Linked DNA regions of Homo sapiens. The protein of the gene in region 1 purifies or fractionates together with the protein of each later gene. This does not show direct contact. Each region holds a gene or a part of one and is shown on either strand. Other genes may lie near its edges.

Region 1 (3,542 bases):
CTCAGAGGATGTGAAAGCTCTCGTTTAGTTCAGTGTGGTCCTCGGGAAAGCTCTTCTGCTCACCGCAAGTTGGCTGGTTTCCAAAGCTGTGCGTGCCAGCTTGGATCTCCTGGGGCTGATATACCACATTCTCCCCTCCTCCCATCTCTATCCCACAGTGCAGCGACATTTCTCCCTTCAGTCCAAACTTCATGATTCCTCCCTGTTTTCCTCCCAGGGCACTGGTGACTCATTTACAGTCTTCCCTCCTGGCAGGCTCTCTGGCTCACCCCTGGGTTATTCACTCTGCCTCAGTAATTCTGAAACTGTCAGAGTCTGAGGACCACTTTTTACCACCAAAAACTGCTGCAGAGCCTTGCGTTTTGTTACTTTTAGTATTCATAAATTGAGAAGCTTCCATAAATTTAGGTCCATCTGTGGGTTAGAGAACCCCCTCCAACAACTCCGTGACTCCCAGGGTCTTAGGCTGGTTGATTGAGAAATGACAGCCTTGAAGGGGTCCATTCTGTTCATTTTTTTCCCACCCACAGGCCGCCCTCCTTCTGTCATCTGTGAAATGACATCTGAGAGGAAGCAGGGGTTCCTTACGTTCTAAAGAGGTGATTATAAACCCAGATCAAAGTCCCCTTTATCCAGAAAGCATTCCCAGATGGACTTTATCCCATTCTGCATTAATCTTTCTATCTACTCGACATGCGCAGATCAGGATGTGAGCTTCATACCACGAATGTAGTATGTGTATGTGCTTGTCCTTTCTTCATGTTTCTCCTGAGAGCCTTACAAACAATGTGACACACACACACACACAACCTATATATACACACATGTATTATATACACACACATATGTGTATATATAATATATATGATGTGTATATGTATCCATGGGTGTTTGTTATGACTATTGTCATAGTCATAACATAGTCATAGTGCAAATCCTGCAAAATTTTCTCTCCTTTCCGAGGACTTCTCATTCTCTCCCATCCTGACATAGGCTCCTTACCTGGCTCATAGTCCAACTCAAAGCATAGTTTTTCTGTAAAGAAAATAAACCAGGATGAGATTTTATTAGTCTTACAAAACCATCAGACACTTAATGATGAGAAAACTGAGGCCAAGAAGAGGGAAGGGACAAGAAGAAGAATGTAAGCTGGAATCCTCTAGACCAGTGGTTCCAAGCTTGCATCAGAATCATCTGGAGCTCTTGTTAAAACACATCTGTTTCAGATTCAGGTGCTCTGGGGTGGAGCTGAACATCTGTATTTCTAACAATTTCCTGGGCAATGCAGCTGCTGCTGCTGGTGGGAGCCCCACTGCCCTAGCCCTGATCAAACAGGGACCATGACTGCCTTGCTCACCTCTGTACCCGCAGAGCCCAGGACATAGTAAATGCTCAAGAAATATCTGCTTAGTGAATAGAGAAATGGGTTCATTTATTTATTATTCCACTTGGAAATAATTTTGGGGAGAGTCAAAGGTCAGCCTTTGATTAGAGTGAAATTTCCTTCACTGACAGGTCACTGGAAGTATTTGCAGGAAATGGAATTATGGGAAAAGTCCTTCTAGGGTGACATAACTGTGGGTGGGTCATTTCAAAATTGGTGTCATCATTCATTCTGTCATGGTTAGTGAGGAGGTGGTTGGCAGAGAGCCATGTCCCATTCCTGACTCTCATCCAAACCCTCCCCCACACCCTACCACCACTCCCTGTTCCGGAAAAGGAAGTGGAGCACAGTCCCCGTAGGACCGTCTAACTCTGAGCCAGACTAACAGAAAGAAAGTGAGAAGGAAGGAGGGACGAGCCAGATACCACAGGGTCAAGATAAATACTGTTGTTGGCTATTAATTAACAATGTTCATCATCAAAAACTTATCACATATTACAAATGTTGCTGTGGGATTTTTTAACTTATTAAGAATGATATATTGTTAATCATTATCTTTCATATTGCTTAATGACCACTAATCAGATTTGTTGAATTATTTTAAAATCAGTTTAACTTTTTCACCAGAAATATTCACCTTTATTCTCTTTCTTCATTGTCACAATATCCTAATAGGCAGATTTTATAAAAATCTGCAAATAAGGAAATCAAGGCACAGGAAGGAATAAGGCTTGCCAAAGTCACACCTTTCAGCAGTGGAGCGTGGAGGCCACTCCTAAACCCAGGCTTCATGGCCACCTGCGCTCTGTGGAGGCCTGGGGTTCTCTTACCCAGAAACATCTTCATCTCCCTCTGCAGCGGGAGGGCCTGCTGGGGAAAGTCCCGAATCCTCTGGCCCAGCTCTGGCGACACAGCCACCGGTTTCCGGCACTTTCTGGTTTCACATCTAGGGGCACAGAAATGGCTGGGTCTGGGAATTATCATCCTTAATAATGTCTCCAGACTCAGCTGGTCATCTTCTAATAGGGCATGATGGCGCTAGTTCCTGCAGGCAGACGTACTTCCTCTAGGATGAATCCCACTGCCCATTTTTGGGCATCTATGGATATACCTGAGAAGGCATTTGGGTATATAGAGGTTTATATGTAAATTTGTATCCTTAAGTGAGAATGTTATATACCTGTGTGGCAATAACTAGGCATGCAGTACATGTATGTATATTTATATGGAAAAAGAAAAGAGAGAAACTATATTGCTTACCTTATTAGAGTGCTTCTGATGTCCTAGGAGAAAGAGATACCAGAAATTCAGTTTCCAGCTTCTCCTTTCCATTTTTCTTTCCTTTCTTTTTCTACTTTTATTTTATTTATTTTTTATTTGCTTGTTTGTTTGTTTGAGAAAGGGTCTCACTCTGGTGCCCAGGCTGGAATACAGTGGCGTGATCATGGCTCACTGCATACTCAACCTCCTGGGCTCAAGGGATCCTCCTACCTCAGCATCTTGAGTAGCTGGGACTACAGGTGTTTGTCACCATGCCTGGCTAATTTTCTTTTTTTTTTTTTTTTTTTTTTTGTAGAGATGGGGTTTTGTTATGTTGCCCAGGCTCCTCCCACTTTTCTTATGACTGGAAAAGACAAAATATATTTCTAGCCCTGGACAGGAAAAGGATACCAGATGCATAGAGTCACAGAGCATTAGGACTCACCCATCTCTGTGGATCAGAGCCCAAAGCCTTTATTTTTTAGATAAAGATGGTGAAGTGACCTTCCCCTGCTCACTGGAGGCAAAGTAAGTCTCATACCAAGGTCTCCTGTTTCTCAGTCCTAAGAGCATCATTCTAAGTCATGCTGCCTTTCCAATACTTTGTGGGGACCCCAATACCTCTCCTCCAGTGTGAGGAAGTGAAATAGACCAGGACAAACTTCCTGACTGGTGGTTGGTGACATTTAGGTTATAGAGAATGGTTTGCAACTTACTTAATACTTTTTCAAAGTGCTACTTTCACTTCCATCTTACTGTTGGATCCTCACAAAAGCCCTGTGAAATATTTAAGGAAAGTATCTTCCCTATTTGGCAGATGGTGGGACGGAGAGGTGGAGACCAGAGAGCAAAAAGTGACCAGGGAACTCTTGGAAAAGCATGAACTAGAATTGAGACT
Region 2 (3,658 bases), on another chromosome or scaffold:
AGTTACAATAAACAATAAATTATAAACGGATTTTAGTTGCAAATAAGAAATGGATGTACTTCATGCTTAGTACTTTTTCAAAGTGTAAAGTCATGCATTTCACCCTCTTCTTCTTTCTCCAACACCTTACAGGGCTTGCCAAATGAGAGTTGGAAAATATCCAAAATAAACAGTAATTATGAGTTCTGTGACACCTACCCTGCCATCATTGTTGTGCCAACTAGTGTAAAAGATGATGACCTTTCAAAAGTGGCAGCTTTTCGAGCAAAAGGCAGAGTCCCTGTAAGTAATAAACATTGTCATTTATATAGGAATATATATTGCGTTAGATCTAATATGGAGAGATTTAAGACAAAAAAGAAACTAGTGAACAAAAATGGAAAGCAGAAAAATAAGCTTATAAACCTGAACATACCTTTGATTCTCAACAAATACCTAATTATATAAACAATCTGTTTGCTATGACTCCCTCTTTTACGATTTCCTATAACTAAGTATAAGGGGAACTTCAGTCATACCCTCAAAAAGTAGTAGAGAATGACAAAGGAGTAGCAACAACAAGTTATCATGCTATTGTATTACCAGTTGGCATTGCTGGTTTCACTGAATCATCCTAGAGAAAATGCTTCTTTCTTAGATACTGAGCATGATGCCATAGCTGCGTGGGAGGGACATCATTACAGAAGTAGTAGCAGACAGCTGGGAGTAATGGTTTGAGCCCAGAGTTTGCATCTGTTGTAATCCTGAGTCACTTGGCCACTGGAGGAAAATGAGAGGTGGGGTGGCAGAGTGTCAGATTTTATAAGAGACTGTATATTCACTTTGTCCTTACCCTGCCACGTATATTATTGTTGAGATACAAAGATGTTTTTAAAATTAGGAGACAAGGTAAAATTAGTCAATCAAATTGGAATGGGGCTAGATTTTAGTAATAGTTTGATTTAGGATTTGTTTTTCTTAGAATCATAGAATATTGGGGATGGAAGGGGATTTTTAGAGCTCATGTAGTCAGAATTGTTTCATCCTGACCAAAACATTGAGTCTGATGGCCACTACAATGCTGTGATTGGCCTGCCCACTCTCACTTTTGAAGAAAATATGTATAAGAGACCGTGCTTGAGAAGGGAACTTGTTTTTCCTACCAGGTAATTAGAGCATACATTCTTTAGGAACTGTACTAATATTTATTGCTTAAAAACACTAGGTGTTGTCATGGATTCATCCGGAAAGTCAAGCAACGATTACCCGTTGCAGCCAGCCACTTGTGGGTCCCAATGATAAGCGCTGCAAAGAGGATGAAAAATACTTGCAAACAATAATGGATGCTAACGCACAGTCACACAAGCTTATCATCTTTGATGCTCGACAAAACAGTGTCGCTGATACCAACAAGGTATATTCTTAATAGCACTGCAGAAACACTGGATATTTTCATGTCCTGTCTGTAAATCATTATGCAGTTGGAATAACTCATTGATTTCCTCACCACCTGAAGTTAGAATCATTTGGAGTCCCATAGCTATTCCTCCCTGGTGTATGCTCCTTGGGCTGTGTTTGGTGTCTCACATGGGTTGGGATCTTGTCTGTTTCATTGCTTCTCTACAATATCCTGTCTGCTAAATCAATTAAGTAAAGACCTAGAAAGACAATTATCATCTAAAGGATTTAGCATTTTAATGAAATGATCGTGAGGTCCTTGGAAGTCCGTTTAAGGAATATAGTGGTTAGTTGATTAATTCATGTCTGGTCTGAATTTCTTTTAGAATGGAATCAGCCATGTGAAATGTGTAAATGTACAAAGTTTCCATAAATCTCATGGAGCACCTGTGTAGTGTACCTCGGGTGGCAGTGAGACATGGTTAAAAACACCTCCGTTCCCATGACTTTCATGATATCACACCCTGAGTTTCTCTCGCTCTTCAGCCTGGCCTTCTCCATCTCCTTCACTGATTTCTCTTCCCAGTCTTCAAATGGCATTGCTCCTCGAACTTGGTCTGGGGTCCTCTTTGCTCTACACAGACTCCTGGGGCCATCTCTGATGACACGGCTTTAAACACTGTCTGTATGCTGAGTTCAACTTGAGCTTGACACTGCAGTTTCTCTCCTGTCCTGATCCCTCCTAAGGTTGAGACTGGATTTCTATCCCATTGTATGGTTGACATCTCTGCTTGGCTGTTTCCCAGACCACAAACCCTCCGTATATTCCAACTGGCCTGAGAGGCACGATGGCAAGTTGGTGAGACCCCTTGGCTTTGGAATCAGTTACACCTGGGTTTTCCTCCAGGTTCTGCCACTTGGTGCTCTAGAATCCTGAGCCGGTTACTTAACCTCTCTCTGTGCCTCAGGTTCCTCTTCTGTAAAACAGGAGATAATATCAGTGTCTCATGTCATGGGTTGTGTGAGGATTAAAATTCAGTGAGAAGAATGCATGTAAATGACTTAGCACAGTGGTGAGTGCATCCTCAGGGCACAGTACATGATGCTGATAAGCTCGCCACCCCTGTGGTCAAGGGTGTTGCCCAGGTGTCTGACTTGAGGGTGAATAGTGGTGTCTGTTACTGAGATGGGGAAGACTGGGAGAGGAACAGGGCAGGGAGGAAGATGGGGAAGTATTAGTTTTCTGAGGCTGTCATACAAATTACTACCAATTTGTTGGCTTACAGCACCAGAAATGTATTGATCACAATTCTGGAGGCCAATTCTGCTCCCTCTAAAGGTTCAAGGGGAGAATCTGTTCCTTGCCTCTTCCAGCATGGGGTGGCTGCCCCAGCCTTCCTGGGCTTGCAGCCACATCACTCCAATCTCTTCTTCCGTCATCACATGACCCTCTCTTGCTCTGGGTTTCTGCGTCTCCTCCTTTCTCTTCTAATGACACTTGTGATGACATTTAGGTTCCACCTGAAATAATCCTGGATCCTTAAACACATCTGCAAAGACCCTCTTTTCAATTAATCTTGGAATCCTTAAACACATCTGCAAATCTCAGGATCCTTAAACATCTGCAAAGACCTTCTCTTCAAATAAGGTCACATTCACCATTGCCAGGGATTCGATGTGGATGTCTTTGGCGGGGCCACTTTTCAGCCTACCATAGGGAGGCATCCCTCAGTGAGGCCCCCTTGCTCCCCACATCTGGATCATTAGCTGTGTCAGTCTTTCTACATCTCTGCCTCCCACCTGTCACCACCATATCCCAAGGAATTACAAAATGTGAGAAAAGCCATATTGGTGGAGGCCATCTTCAGACTAGCCAACAGGGTGAGGGCAGTTCATTGTGTTTTATCCCATGCAGGAGAGATAGAGACAGGACACTAAATTGTATATCTAGAATAATTTTAACTATGGCAGTATATGTGTCTAGGAAACAGTATTTTCTAGGTCTCCACTGGTTCTTTATATATAAGATTATGTCATATGCAAGTCGAGATAATGTGACTTCTTCCTTTACAATCTGGCTGCCTTTCATATCTTCTTCTTGCATTGGTATTGCATTGGTTGATTTTTATATGTTGAACCACTGTCGTGGATTGAAAAATGTCTCCCAAAAGTTTGTCCAACTGGAACCTCAGAATGTGACCTTATTTAGAAATAGGATCTTTGCAGATGTATTAATTATGATGAAGCCATCTTGGAGTAGGGTTGGCCCTAAATCCAGTGC
Region 3 (2,336 bases), on another chromosome or scaffold:
CCCTCAGGTGCAGGATCCCACTCTCTTGCCCTCCCTGGCCCAGGTACCGCACAGTACTCAGACCCAAATACAAGGTTGGCTACAAGACAGTGACAGACCTCGCCTGGCGTTGCTGTCCCGGCTTCACTGGGAAACGCTGCCCTGAGCACCTCACGGACCATGGGGCTGCCTCACCCCAGCTGGAGCCTGAGCCTCAGATTCCTTCAGGGCAGCTGGACCCAGGCCCCAGGCCCCCTTCCTACAGCAGAGCAGCCCCCAGCCCTCATGGTGAGTCTGCCCAAGGAGACCCTCCAAGGTGATTGGGTTTCTTGGGCTCAGTGGCAGGGGCAGGGAGGGGACTGATCCCAGGCTGGCTGAGCTCCGGCATGGATGGGGAGGGGCAAGCCCCAAGCCCCACTTTCACCCCACCATAAAGCTGAGGGAGTTATGCCCAGTGAGAAGGTAGGCTTAGAACAGAAAGTCTGGGCTGGGCGCGGTGGCTCATGCCTGTAATCCCAGCACTTTGGGAGGCCGAGGCGGGTGGATCACGAGGTTAGGAGATCGAGACCATCCTGGCTAACATCGTGAAACCCCATCTCTACTAAAGATAGAAAAAAAATAGCCGGGCGTGGTGGTGGGTGCCTGTAGTCCCAGCTGCTTGGGAGGCTGAGGCAGGAGAATGGCATGAACCCGGAAGGCGGAGCTTGCAGTGAGCCAAGAGCACACCACTGCACTCCAGCCTGGGCGACTGAGCAAGACTCTGTCTCAAAAAAAAAAAAAAAGAACAGAAAGTCTCTTGGGTGGCCTGGCATTGTGACAAGCTGAGAGGGTGAGGCCAGTGATGCCCCTGGGGCTCTCTTCTCTTTCCCAGGAAGGAAAGGCCCAGGGCTGTTTGGTGAGCGGCTGGAACGCCTGGAGGGTGATGTCCAGCGCCTGGCTCAAACATATGGTACCCTCAGTGGCCTGGTGGCTAGCCACGAGGATCCCAACAGGATGACTGGTGGCCCCAGGGCTCCTGCTGTCCCTGTGGGCTTTGGGGTCATCCCTGAGGGGCTTGTGGGCCCAGGAGACAGAGCCAGAGGGCCACTAACACCTCCCTTAGACGAGATCCTAAGCAAGGTGACAGAGGTGAGCAACACTCTTCAGACCAAGGTGCAGCTTCTAGACAAGGTGCATGGGCTGGCACTTGGCCATGAGGCCCACCTGCAGCGGCTGCGGGAAGCCCCACCATCCCCGCTCACCTCCCTGGCCCTGCTGGAGGAGTACGTGGACCGACGGCTGCACCGACTCTGGGGGAGCCTGCTGGATGGCTTTGAGCAGAAGCTGCAAGGCGTCCAGAGTGAGTGTGACCTGCGGGTGCAGGAGGTACGGCGGCAATGTGAGGAGGGTCAGGCCGCCAGCCGGAGGCTGCACCAGAGCCTTGATGGCCGGGAGCTGGCCCTGCGCCAGGAGCTGTCACAGCTGGGCAGCCAGCTGCAGGGCCTGAGCGTGTCTGGCAGGGGCAGCTGCTGTGGGCAACTAGCCTTGATCAATGCCCGTATGGATGGCCTTGAGAGGGCCCTGCAGGCAGTCACCGAGACCCAAAGGGGCCCCGGTGCCCCGGCCGGGGATGAGCTTACGAGGCTCTCTGCTGCCATGCTCGAGGGAGGTGTGGACGGGCTGCTTGAGGGTCTGGAGACGCTCAATGGGACAGAGGGTGGAGCAAGGGGATGCTGTCTGAGGTTGGACATGGGGGGGTGGGGAGTGGGCGGCTTTGGGACCATGCTGGAAGAGCGCGTGCAGAGCCTCGAGGAGCGCCTAGCAACATTGGCTGGGGAGCTAAGCCATGACAGCGCCTCTCCGGGCAGGTCAGCTCGGCCCCTTGTACAGACAGAGCTGGCTGTGCTAGAGCAACGGTTGGTCTCACTGGAGACTTCGTGCACCCCGAGCACCACCTCAGCCATCCTGGACAGCCTCGTGGCAGAGGTGAAGGCCTGGCAGAGCCGGAGCGAGGCCCTCCTACGCCAGGTGGCCAGCCACGCAGCACTGCTCCAGCAGCTCAATGGCACTGTGGCCGAGGTCCAGGGACAGCTGGCAGAAGGGACGGGCAGCTCACTTCAAGGCGAGATCACTCTGCTCAAGGTCAATCTGAACTCAGTGAGCAAGTCGCTCACAGGCCTCAGTGACTCTGTCAGCCAGTACTCTGATGCCTTCTTGGCTGCCAACACGTCCCTGGATGAGCGGGAACGCAAGGTGGAAGCCGAAGTCCAGGCCATCCAGGAGCAGGTCAGCAGCCAAGGCTCCAGGCTTCAGGCTGGCCACAGGCAGGTCCTGAACCTGCGTGGGGAGCTGGAGCAACTCAAGGCTGGTGTGGCCAA

The links.
Region 2: the proteins of TRIM10 (region 1) and MTMR1 purify together in Homo sapiens (affinity purification with mass spectrometry; 3 studies listed by BioGRID and IntAct, with this or other methods). This does not show direct contact.
Region 3: the proteins of TRIM10 (region 1) and EMILIN3 purify together in Homo sapiens (affinity purification with mass spectrometry; 3 studies listed by BioGRID and IntAct, with this or other methods). This does not show direct contact.

What each region holds. Positions count from the first base shown.
Region 1 is NC_000006.12:30,154,725-30,158,266, forward strand, and holds part of TRIM10 (tripartite motif-containing protein 10), read right to left. Parts: intron 2,668-3,542; coding exon 2,645-2,667; intron 2,331-2,644; coding exon 2,215-2,330; intron 1,036-2,214; coding exon 1,003-1,035; intron 1-1,002. UniProt on the Homo sapiens protein: E3 ligase that plays an essential role in the differentiation and survival of terminal erythroid cells. May directly bind to PTEN and promote its ubiquitination, resulting in its proteasomal degradation and activation of hypertrophic signaling.
Region 2 is NC_000023.11:150,731,338-150,734,995, forward strand, and holds part of MTMR1 (phosphatidylinositol-3-phosphate phosphatase MTMR1), read left to right. Parts: intron 1-132; coding exon 133-282; intron 283-1,204; coding exon 1,205-1,393; intron 1,394-3,658. UniProt on the Homo sapiens protein: Lipid phosphatase that specifically dephosphorylates the D-3 position of phosphatidylinositol 3-phosphate, generating phosphatidylinositol. Could also dephosphorylate phosphatidylinositol 3,5-bisphosphate to produce phosphatidylinositol 5-phosphate.
Region 3 is NC_000020.11:41,361,569-41,363,904, reverse strand, and holds part of EMILIN3 (EMILIN-3 precursor), read left to right. Parts: intron 1-43; coding exon 44-267; intron 268-850; coding exon 851-2,336.